Linked DNA regions of Homo sapiens. The protein of the gene in region 3 interacts with the protein of the main gene of each other region in a biochemical or structural test. Each region holds a gene or a part of one and is shown on either strand. Other genes may lie near its edges.

Evidence for each region.
Region 1: the proteins of VDAC1 (region 3) and RTL10 form a complex in vitro, tested with the Homo sapiens proteins (one study listed by IntAct).
Region 2: the proteins of VDAC1 (region 3) and PRKCE form a complex in vitro, tested with the Homo sapiens proteins (one study listed by BioGRID).

What each region holds. Positions count from the first base shown.
Region 1 is NC_000022.11:19,845,344-19,848,760, forward strand, and holds the end of RTL10 (protein Bop), read right to left. Parts: 3' UTR 803-3,417; downstream 1-802. UniProt on the Homo sapiens protein: Could induce apoptosis in a BH3 domain-dependent manner. The direct interaction network of Bcl-2 family members may play a key role in modulation RTL10/BOP intrinsic apoptotic signaling activity.
Region 2 is NC_000002.12:46,183,175-46,186,976, reverse strand, and holds part of PRKCE (protein kinase C epsilon type), read right to left. Parts: intron 2,243-3,802; coding exon 2,096-2,242; 3' UTR 1-2,095.
Region 3 is NC_000005.10:133,987,610-133,991,713, forward strand, and holds part of VDAC1 (non-selective voltage-gated ion channel VDAC1), read right to left. Parts: intron 3,546-4,104; coding exon 3,393-3,545; intron 3,299-3,392; coding exon 3,246-3,298; intron 1,635-3,245; coding exon of another isoform or gene 1,526-1,634; exon of another isoform or gene 309-1,525; intron 1-308. UniProt on the Homo sapiens protein: Non-selective voltage-gated ion channel that mediates the transport of anions and cations through the mitochondrion outer membrane and plasma membrane.

The sequences.
Region 1 (3,417 bases), on a different chromosome or scaffold from region 3:
CCCCCCCTATGCACAGCCTGTGAATAAAGAGCCCTGGCTCCACAACCCACAAACACTCCCCAGTCCCCTGCAGTGCTCAGACACAGAGGTGAGGTGGGCAGCGCAGGCACAGCAGGGGGCAGGGGAGTCAGATGTCCTGTGCACCCAGCTGGCAGCCCCACCAATGGGGACACAGAAGAATGTGGCAAGTGCATGAGCACCCATCATCCACAGGCCCCAGCCCTGTGCTGGGGGTGGTTCCTGAGGCCAGGAGGAAAGGAGCCGGCCAATGAGAACACCCCACAGGCCTGGGCTCTTCCTTGGCCAGCCCCTACCCACCGTGTCCCTGTAATAGAGATGATGTAGCCCAAAGAAAAACTAAGGGAGCAACGGGCCCTGCTGTCCTGGAGAGCAGGCTTGGCCAGGCTGTCCAGCGACAAGGCACCCCCGAGGCCTGCACCAGGAGAGTGTGAACACTGCTGGGGCTGGGCAAGGGCCATGACACCATCCTCGCTGCCTCTGCATTTGTGATCCAATGTGTTTTAAAACTTGCAAAGACAACTTGAAAAATGGGGACATGGATGGTTTCCCTATGACATAAGCAAGACTTAAAAGCTAGAATAACTAGTAAGGGACAGATCAGACCAGAGAGCAGGCGGGTAGGCCAGGCATGGCTCACGGGTGGCTGCAGCCAGACTGTGAGTTGCTGCAGCCAGCAGCTGATGCTGAGGTAGGCCCTATGGAAAAAGGTGAAATGGGATCCCCTGTTGGTCAGGACATAATAGGTTATGCTGTGGAAAACACAAGCCCCAAACTCAGTGGCTTCGCACATCAAAAATTTATTTCTTGCTCATATTACATGTGCATCGCGGTCGGCAGAGGGGCTCTGCTCATCACAGGCTATCAAGGATGACAGCAGACCCCTCCCTTCTGCCGCAGTTACACTTACAGGTGGACTCAAGGTTGAATGTCAAAGGCAGAAAGTTACAACCTGGGAATACAGGATAATGCCTTTGTACCCCCCAGGTAGGGAAAGATTTCTTAAGTGAGAAACAGCATCCCATACAGCACAACTGGGCACTGCCTACTCAACAGCCAAGGCTTGGCCATCCCCACTCCTCAGTATGGGCCCCAGAACCCAGGGCCTGGGGGACTCTGCACACAGGCATGTGGAGACCACAGAAGCCTGCCCAATATAGCGCTGCCAGGAACAGCAAAGACAAAACCAGAGAAGCCTATCGCGGGCACCGCTGTGGGCAGAACTATGTCCCTTCAATATTTTTATGTTCAAGTCCTAACCCCTAGTACTTACATTTGAAGACAGGGTCTTTAAAGAGGTAATTCAGGGTTAAATGAGGTCATGAGGGTGGGCCCTGATCCAATAGACTAGTGAGCTTATGAGAGATTAGGACACAGACACAGACAGGGACACGGCAAGAAGATGGCTATCTGCAGGCCAAGGAGCGAGGCCTCAGGAGAAACCAACCCTGCCCACACCTTGATCTCAGGCTTCTAGCTCCAGAATCATGAGGAAATGTCTGTTGTTTAAGTCCCCTAGCCTGCGGTCCTTTGTCAGGCAGCCCCAGCAGACAAACAGGTATGTTGCCCTGGGATGGATGCAGGCCCCTCCCATCCTCCCATCCTCAGCAGCACCAACCAGCCCCACGCTGGGTGGCTGCTTGTACTTCTCCATACTGAGCACCCCAGCCCATAGGATGATCAGCTGCTGCCGTCCTATGGAACTCAGGTGTGGCTCTGTGGCTTCCTTTGGCCACAGAAATGGAAGTGGGGTGACACACATTACTTGTGGCCTGCTGTGGCCTTTCCCCTGCCTCAGTGAGCATGGAGAAATATGTCCAGGTAGGCTGTCGTCAGCACAGGTCTGACAGGCCCCAGCCACGGTGGCCCACAGGTGCAAGCAAGAAATAAGCAGTGCCAACTGTAGCCGCTGCGCTGTTGGAGATCTTTGTTACTGCAGCACAATCTGGCTCATGCTGACTGATCCTGCAGGGTAACAGCTTTATTTGCCTTGCTCCTTTATTGCTGGATCTTTGGGCTTTTCCAGTTCTGCTGTTCAAAAAACAGTGACACCCATGAGGTGGGTGTTAGAGGGCCCAGACCCCAGCCAAGGCACTGCATGGGCATCATTCTCATTCAACCCTTCTAACCACCCCATGAGGAAAAACTCTGGTCACAGCTCAAAAAGGTCAGGTAAGGACCCTCAGCTCATGCGGGGAGGGGAGGAGGCAAGGCCAACCTCCAGTCCCTGCTCTAAACCCCCATGTAGTGGTACCGAACCATGACCACCCCTGGCAAGAGCCTTCATGCACCTAGCAAGTAGTCACAGCATGCATGTGCCTAGAATTGTTACGTGGTCAAATTATATTATTGTGTATTCCCACCAACAGTATGAGAAGGTCCACTTCTCCATACCTCCACAACTCTGGGCATCTAAAACTTTTAAAATCCTGGAATCATAGGCAAAAAAAAAAAAAAAAAAAAATTCACCCATATTTTCCTCTAGTACTTTCATAATTGTAACATTGAAATCTTTAATCTGGAATATGTACTGGCATAAAGAGTGAGGCACATACATGGCTTTACTATTTTCCAGAGGGCCAACTGCTTTTACTGAATAATCCATTTTACTCGTTAATTGGAAACACCTCTAGCCTGTACTAAATTTCCATATTTATTTGGCCCGTTTCAAAGTCCTCTATTCTCTGCTCATCTGTCCACATCTAAGTGCTTTAACTATTGTGGCTTTATAAAATATTCCAATATCCCATAGGACCTTATCCTTAGTACTTCCTATTTTAAAGTTTTCCTTGCAGACAGGTACTTTAAATACCATCTCACAGCACCCATCATGTCCTATCTTCAGGAAATAAAATCTCTGGGTATTTCCAAGGGAAGTGAAGGACTGACACCATGATTAGAAAGCAGAGCCAGCACCATGGCCCGTCCCTGAGCATGTCCAGCAAACCCTGCCAGGCTCTGCAGCTCCTGAGCACCCTGCCTTCGGGTCTGCCAGTGTGTGGGGGCCAGAAGAGAAAAACAACCCAGGGGGAATGCCTCCTTCCCCCAGCAGGAAAGCAGCTTGGTCATCATCTGTCTGAAAGCAGGTGCTGCAGCAGCTGGCAACAAAGCCACTCTGAAAGGAGCTGTGTGCACTGCCTGTCTGGAAGGCCATGCCAGAGTCCATCGTTGCCTCCACCCTACCTGTGCAGGAAACCTGGACATCACCACTTCAAGGCCCTACCTTCCTTTCTGGGCAGAGCCCAACCACAATAAACAGGACGCGTTTTAATTAAAAACCAGGTCACCTGGACTCTCCCAAGGACTCTCAAGCCTGCCTAGGTGGATGCTGCATGACTGGCCCTCAGACACACGGCAGACCATAACTCACACACCCCCAGGAGCTGCCTGGGTCCCAAG
Region 2 (3,802 bases), on a different chromosome or scaffold from region 3:
AAATTAATCTCATGTTCTTCATCATTCACTGGTATGCCAAACACATGAATTGATATATCATAATATTTAATATTTGCAATTATCTTAAGAACAGATAATAATTACACCTGAGTTTTTAAAAAATAAAAACAAAAGAGAACTGAATGTCATCATTAGTAACAAAGGCTATGACCAGCCAGATGCAAATATGGACACAGACTCTCTAATGGGCTCAAGATAGTTACTGTCCGAGCTTTGAAACCACCATCAAAAACATTCCTTTCTCTCCCCCATCTCTATCAGGGTATAATAGAGCACAGAAGAACTGTATGTGAGATTTAATATAGCTTAATATATGTTTACATCTTTTAAAATAAACCAAAATGAAATAAACAATACAAAGAATCCCCAACACACCCCCCCATCCCCCATAAAGGAACACACCTATCTCTCGGTAACTTGAACCAATAGACTTACAGAGTATTGCACCTGGACATTATTATAATTATTCTTTCATAGACTAAAGTTTTATAATATGCCTGAACATGCAGCAGTTGATACCTCTATATGCAACGAATTAATTCCACAGGCCTTGCAGCAAACACTATATACAAAAATCTCAAATGTACAAAAGGCAAAAGCTTCATTAGTGCCACTTTGCCACTCACAAGTATATATATTTAGGGGCAGCTGGGAAATCCACGTGCAATAGTTGGAATGGATTCCATTCCCTGCTAAATCAGTTCAGTAAATTAGGTAATCAAATGACCTCTGGGAAACATATACACAAAGCCACAGAGAACCCTTGGAAATGAAAGAATAACACTGTTAGCATATCTACAGGAGGTAATGTCACATCCCTTCAATAGTGTCCACATGAGTTGCCATTGCATGTCACACAGAAACAAAACTGAGTACATCTTGCGACATTGTCAGTTTTCTAACAAGTTGCTCTTCAGTTTCCAGATACCCTTTGTATAACCCATGTTTAGCCTCATTCTGCTTATTCCAAAAGCAGATATTTCGTATATAACTTTACATGTTTAATGTTTAAAAACCACAACACAGTAGTACTACCATTTTGTATAAGTGCGCAAAAATAACACACTGCTGCAGAAAATAAATAGTGTTTATGCTAGGAACTTAGGATGAAACTGGAAAGAGAATCTGGGAGCTGAGCTTTGTTGGAACCCCAGGGTCCTCGCCTTTGTGTCCAGGTAGAACTTGAATGATGAAGAATGCTACTTGTTGCCTTTTCTCTCAATTCATACAGCTCTCATGTGTCACTCGGGCATTGACAGCATCCACCTTGGACGACCGGTTTCTCATTTTTTATTAGCCCTTTAATATCTACCTGTATTCAGACTGGAACTCATCTCTTTTGGCCAATTAGAAAGTGAATTTGAAAATATATTTTTCAAATGTTAACAGAGTTCAAAACCCTGTTTCTTTTTCCACAAAGAGGATTTCTTCCACAAGACACAAACTTACATGACTTTGGCATGCTGAAAAGCTAAAACCAAAGCAGGCAAGAGTTAGCCATTCCAGAGCAAACCAACCCAGCTGGCCAATCCCTGCATCTCTGGTCTCCCTCCCTCAGAGGGCATGCCTCAAGGGCGCCCTCCCTCGTGTGTGCGGAGAAGCACCAGTCTCTTCTCCAGGACAGAAGGGCAGGGATGGCAAGCTGCGGTGCAGGAGGGAAAAGAAGCAAGAGGGATCAGGATCTGTGTCCGATAGCAGAGCCGGAGTCTTCTTGTTTGCTTTCTTTCTTTTTTCTGTTCTTTGCAGTAAAAGAACTGAAGTTGCTTCACTGCCAGGAGCCCCTGAGGAGTGGAACCAGGCTTGCCAATGGTCCAAACACGGCAGTGTATACAGCTAATTGCTGACCCAATGAGTCTGCATTACTGGTGAGACAAGAACCGAGAGCGCCTTCTGGTCACCAGGTGGGAGGGGGAGGAGGTGGCCTGGGGCAAGGGAATGCAATAAATAGACAGTGGACATGGGACTGGGGCTCCGAGGAGGAGAAGTAGTTCAAGACCTGCTGAGTGTCTCCAACACAGGAGTCTTCTCTGCACCCCTTCTTGCAGCATCGGCAAAGTCCAACTGCAGTGGGCTCTCAGGGCATCAGGTCTTCACCAAAGTAGGAGAAACCTTTGAATTCCTCCTGGTTGATCTGCTTTACAATTGCTTCGTCCACAAGGGTGAGTACCGGCTCTTCCCGGGTAAAGTCTTGGTCAAAATTATTGACGTCTCTTTTGGTTTTCTGTGGGAAGAAAAGAGAAAGTGGTGAGTTGAGGCTGCTCTCCCTCCTGAGGGCCCCCCATGGGGAGTGGGCACCGCACTGACCAGCCTGTCACCAAAGCAGGCCTCTAGCTACCAACAGACAGCAGACACGGGGCTGTCCCGATGAGGTAACGATGGATGGCCCCAGGACCCGGAGGTGAGAGACGAGGAGAGGAAGAATGAGTCAAGGTGAGAAGGAAGAAGGGGTGAGAGGGTATGATGGAAAAGCAGGGAAGTGGGATTCCCACAGACGTGTGTGTGTGTGTGTGTGTGTGTGTGTTTGTGTGTGTATGATGCAAAGGTCCCATCTCACACCCTCTTTCAGCAACTGCTGTAACCTACTGGCTCCATTACAACATTCCTCCCTGTGACCCAGGGAACAGATCTGAATCCCCTCTCAGAGGTCCTTCTTCCCCATAACCCGGCCACATCTGCTCCAGGTGACATCCTCTCCACAAGCCTGCCTCGATTTCCACTTACTCTCACCACGAACCCAATTTTGTGCTCCAGTATTTTTTCAATTATTAAACTCAGCACATTGACTTGCAATGACGTTTTTATGCTTTTGTCTAGACCAAGAGCTTCTTAAAGGCAGAGACCTTGTCTTGTTCAACTTTGAGTTCCCAGCAGTTCCCCAGCAATAAGTGTCTACTGAATGAAATAAGTAAACTCACCACTGACTCCCCAGCTCTGAAGGACCCATACCTCTGGGTTGAAGTTCCCAAGGTACAACTGTGTGCCTTATGGTTCTTGGGGGGTGGGGTGGAAGGGAGCAATCAATCAACCCACAAATGAATGCTGGTTTTTGGAGAAAATCAGGAAGTATAAGTAATGCTCTCTGCCTTTAGGGGCTTAGAGTTGAGTTCAAGGGGTCAGTAGTCCTGTGTAGAACACATCGCTTTAGTTAGAAAAATTTCCATGGAGAAGTTGGGATTTGGGCTAAGACTTGAGGAATGGGTGACAACTGTACTGGTAGAAATGGGAGGGAGGCACCTTGGCAGGGAGAAGGATGGAACAAAGGCAGGGAACAGGAAGACAAAAGATGCATACACAGGGCAGCGGGTTCACTAAGCTGCAGGGGCAGAGTGCGGCATGGGGATGGCGGGAGTTAGGGCTGGAGTCCAATGGCAGAGGCCTTCAATAGCAGGTCCCCTCTCCCCCACAGCACAGAGCACAATGCCCAGAAGATTAAAGGCAGGGACTCCAGCAATACTTTTTTCAGACACTGATTAACTGGTATTACCCAGGATTAGTGACTTGGATGATGGAATAAATCTTGTGGAAAGATTCACATTATTATTTGTAGGAGAAATAATATTAATATATGCTATGCTCTGTGGAAACCACTAACCTAAAGAAGTTAATAAGTAGTCCATGAAAAAAGCAGTTTTGACATAAAGCCATGTTTTCTACCCTGCTCTTGGAGATTTGCTATGCACATTGGCAAGTTAGTCTCTGAGAAATTCTAGAGTGAGGAAATCTAGTTTGCTTTGTTTAGGCTAGCCTTCCTCAAACTTGACCTAAAACTTTTTTGTTTTCC
Region 3 (4,104 bases):
AGAGGTTGCAGTGAGCCAGGATCACACCACTGCACTCCAGTCACCATTTGCCAAGCGTAACTGTTGCAGGCAAGAATCACCAATGGATGTTACTATTTTTGAGCAAAAGTATGATGAGAAATAGAATATCTGCATAATCTCAAAGTGTCTACCCACAAGATACTTACTAATTACAAAGAGAAAAATAGTAGCTTTACAATGAAGAGAGTTGGCAGACACCACTTCAAAACTGATCACCAAAAATGAGGCCTACTGATATATTCTTCCTAACATCAGGTGCAGAGAAGAATATAACACAACAACTACAGTTGCCAAAAATGCATAACCTAAATTTAATCATAAGGAAGCATCAGACAAATCCAAACTGAGGGACATCTTAACAAAATAATTGGCCACTCTTTTTCAAAAGTGTCAGAGTCAGAAAATATTCCAGATTAGAGAAGACTTAACAATTAGATGCAATTTAGGAACCTGAACTGGATCACAGATCAGAAAAAAGACGTCATTGTGACAACAGATTAATTAACTATATGATATCAACATTAACTTGCTGATTCTGATCATTATAGTTACGTAAACCATTAACATTAGGAGCTGGGTGAAGAACACAGGAGAACTCTGCATACTATTTTTGCCACATTTTTTTCTAAGTATAAAATTATTTTGAAATAAAAAGTAAATTAAAAAAAAAAGGGGGGCAGGTGCAGTGGCTCACGCCTGTAAACCCGGCACTTTGGGAGGCTGAGGTGGGCAGATCACCCAAGGTCAGGAGTTCAAGACCAGCCTGACCAACATGGAGAGACCCTGTCTCTATTAAAAATACAAAATTAGCTGGGTGTGGTGGTGCATTCCTGTAATCCCGGCTACTCGGGAGGCTGAGGCAGGAGAAACACATGAATCTGCCCAGCACTTTGGGAGGCCGAGGCAGGTGGATCACGAGGTCAGAAGTTCAAGACCAGCCTGGCCAATACGGTGAAACCCCCGTCTCCACTAAAAATACAAAAATTAGCCAGGCATGGTGGCCCGTGTCTGTAGTCCCAGCTACTTGGGAGGCTGAGGCAAAAGGATCACTTGAACCCGGGAGGAGGAGGTTGCAGTGAGCTGAGATCACACCACTGCACTCCAGCCTGGGCGACAGAGCAAGACTCCGTCCCCCTCAACCCAAAAAAAAAAAAAACCAAAAAACTTTCCTTTGTGTTTTATACTGCATGGCCTGGAGACCTCTGCAAAGCTCCCTAAGGTCATGGGAAGGAAATCACCTACAAATTCCAAAGTGTGCTATCCCAGGGCAGCAGGCAAAGTCCCAGGCAGCAAATTCAAGCATGTGGGCACATCCTCCAGCCTCTCATCCTATCCCAGGATCTTTCCAGATAACCGCTCCCTGATACCATGGCAGAGTTCCTGGGGGGAGAGTGCACAGCACTGCAAAAAGGCAGTGCTCTTGCAGGAGAAACTACAGCAGCGAAGAGGAATGAGAGTAAATCAGCCCCGTAACAATGGTCTCTTCAGATCATCTATAGCCAAGCTATAAGACGACATCTCCAGAGGATAGGAACCATGTGTGCCCAGTCACTTGTGTGCACTGCACACCCAGCACAGGTCTGCACTTGGTAGATCCTCCCTCTAATAAATATCTGTTGGAAAGGAAAAAAGGAAGAAAGAAAAAAAATGAATGGCAAAACTGAAAAATTCATAGTGCCATTTAACTACACACTTAAAGATGTTAAGTTTTATATGTATATCTTACCACAATTTTTTTTTTTTTTTGGAGACAGAGTCTCTCTCTGTAGCCCAGGCTGGAGTGCAGTGGTGCGATCTCAGCTCACTGCAACCTCTGTCTCCTGGGTTCAAGCGATTCTCATGCCTCAGCATCCCAAGTATCTGGGACTACAGGCACGCACCATCATGCCTGGCTAATTTTTGTATTTTTATTAGAGATGGGGTTTTGCCATGTTGCCCAGGCTGGTCTCAAACTCCTGACCTCAAGCAATCCACCCACCTCAGCCTCCCAAAGTGCTGGGATCACAGGCATGAGTCACTGCATCCGACTCTTTTTTTTTTTTTTCTTTTGAGATGGAGTTTCGCTCTTCTTGCCCAGGGTGCAGTGCAATGGCACCACCTTGGCTCACCACAACCTCTGCCTCCCAGGTTCAAGCGATTCTCCTGCCTCAGCCTCCCAAGTAGCTGGGATTACAGGCATGCGCCCACCAGGCGCAGCTAATTTTTATGTTTAGTAGAGACAGGGTTTCTCCACGTTGGTCAGGCTGGTCTCAAACTTCCGACCTCAGGTGATTTGCCTGCCTCAGCCTCCCAAAGTGTTGGGATTACAGGCGTGAGCCACCACGCCCGGCCCACAATTTTTAAAAACTGAAATTCAGTACATGCCCTTGACCCTAACATCACTATATAAAACATCTTCCCCAGGTTTGGAAGACCCACCAATATGAGTGGAAAAAAACAAGGGTGTATTCTAAAAGGGAATAATTCCTTCTAGGCACTTTGAAAAGCACCCAGGAATTGAGGCAGACTACCATGCTATCATGCCAAGTGATGGTCAAGAACTAACAAGCCTATTACATCTGTGGCCAGAAGGCCTGGGGAAAGTGCAGCCTCAGGAGCCACCTTGCAGTTACACCCACAGGGTCTCAGTGTCCCTAAGCAGCAGGAAGCTGGGAGAAGGACTTCCATGCCTGAAGAAATGAGGCTGGCAACAGTGACCAGTTAGGCCCTGCTTCCAAATGTCACCCACTCCCGTTTGGTCATAGCCACTTACATCACCAGCAGCCTAACTCACATGAAATGGCTATTACTGAACAGAAATCCTGCAACCTCCATGGCAGAAACTAGGAGAACACTAACAAAATGCAGAATCTTATTACAAAACACGGCTAAACACTGGTCTGAATCCTCTATTAGAAAGTGAGCTCCTTGGCGGGTAACAATCATGGCCTGGGCACCCTTAGATCTCCAGATGGGCACAGGGCCAAGCACAGGTGGCACTTAGAAATCGTTTGTTGGGTAAACACCAGTCCTGAATTAGGAAGTGCTCATTATAGCATAGTCTGTTAGTGCATAGATGTGGATACGACCCCTGGGACCAAATCAAAACCAGAGGACTTAAATCGCCAGGTCTCGGAGACCATATTTTAGGTGCTGTCAGCCCCCAAAACATTTTGTCACAAAGGGCTTCCACCACCTGCAACATCAGAGAACATCCTTGTGGAGAAAACAGATGAAACTCTTACCCAGTGTTAGGTGAGAAGGATGAATCGAAGGTCAGCTTCAGTCCACGTGCAAGCTGAACAGAAAAGAAATTTGCCACTAGATTTAGTCACAAGGCAGGCTGGCAGATGCGAATTAATAAATCCACATCTTTTCACAGCAGCCATTACCTGATCTTCCACAGTAATCTCGGTGCCTAGTGTATTGTCGGTATTCCATTTCTCTGTAAACGTCAGGCCGTACTCAGTCCATCTGTACTTGGTTTCCAGACTGCCCGTCACTTTGGTGGTCTCAGTGTTGGCTGAGCCTGAGCTTGTAAATTCCTTCAAAGGAGAGAGAAGAGTCACAGCCTGCACCATAGCACTCACTTGGCTTCACTTCACTCCTAAACACTATACTTGCCTTTCTGCAAGAGGCAAGACCCTGAATGTGGGGGGGCCAAGGCTAACTCTACAATTCAAATAGATATTTAAAGTACAGATGGGAGTAAAGGAGCCTGCTATGTAAAGAAATCTTATGGGGAATTTGTTGTCAGCAGACAGCTTCCTTCCTCCCTGTAACTCTTCAGTCTGGACAGGAAAGCATCTCCCTTCCATCCTGGCTCCAGGGCAGTACAGAGAAAAAGCACTGAGCTAAAGCTGACACAGCGGTAATTCAAACCCAAAACTTCTTTCTTCCAACAATTACTGCACACATAATTTCAAAGGGACTACTAAGATTACTTTAAAAACACTTATGTGGTTGAATGCAGGTGAATTTGAAAATAAGAAGCACAAGGAAAACTAAAACTGAGACCTGACCCATTCTCCTCTATTACCCGCTGCTGAACTGGGGGCCTACTGGCATGGTTCCCCTGGACCACCCATCATGCAGAAAATGGAA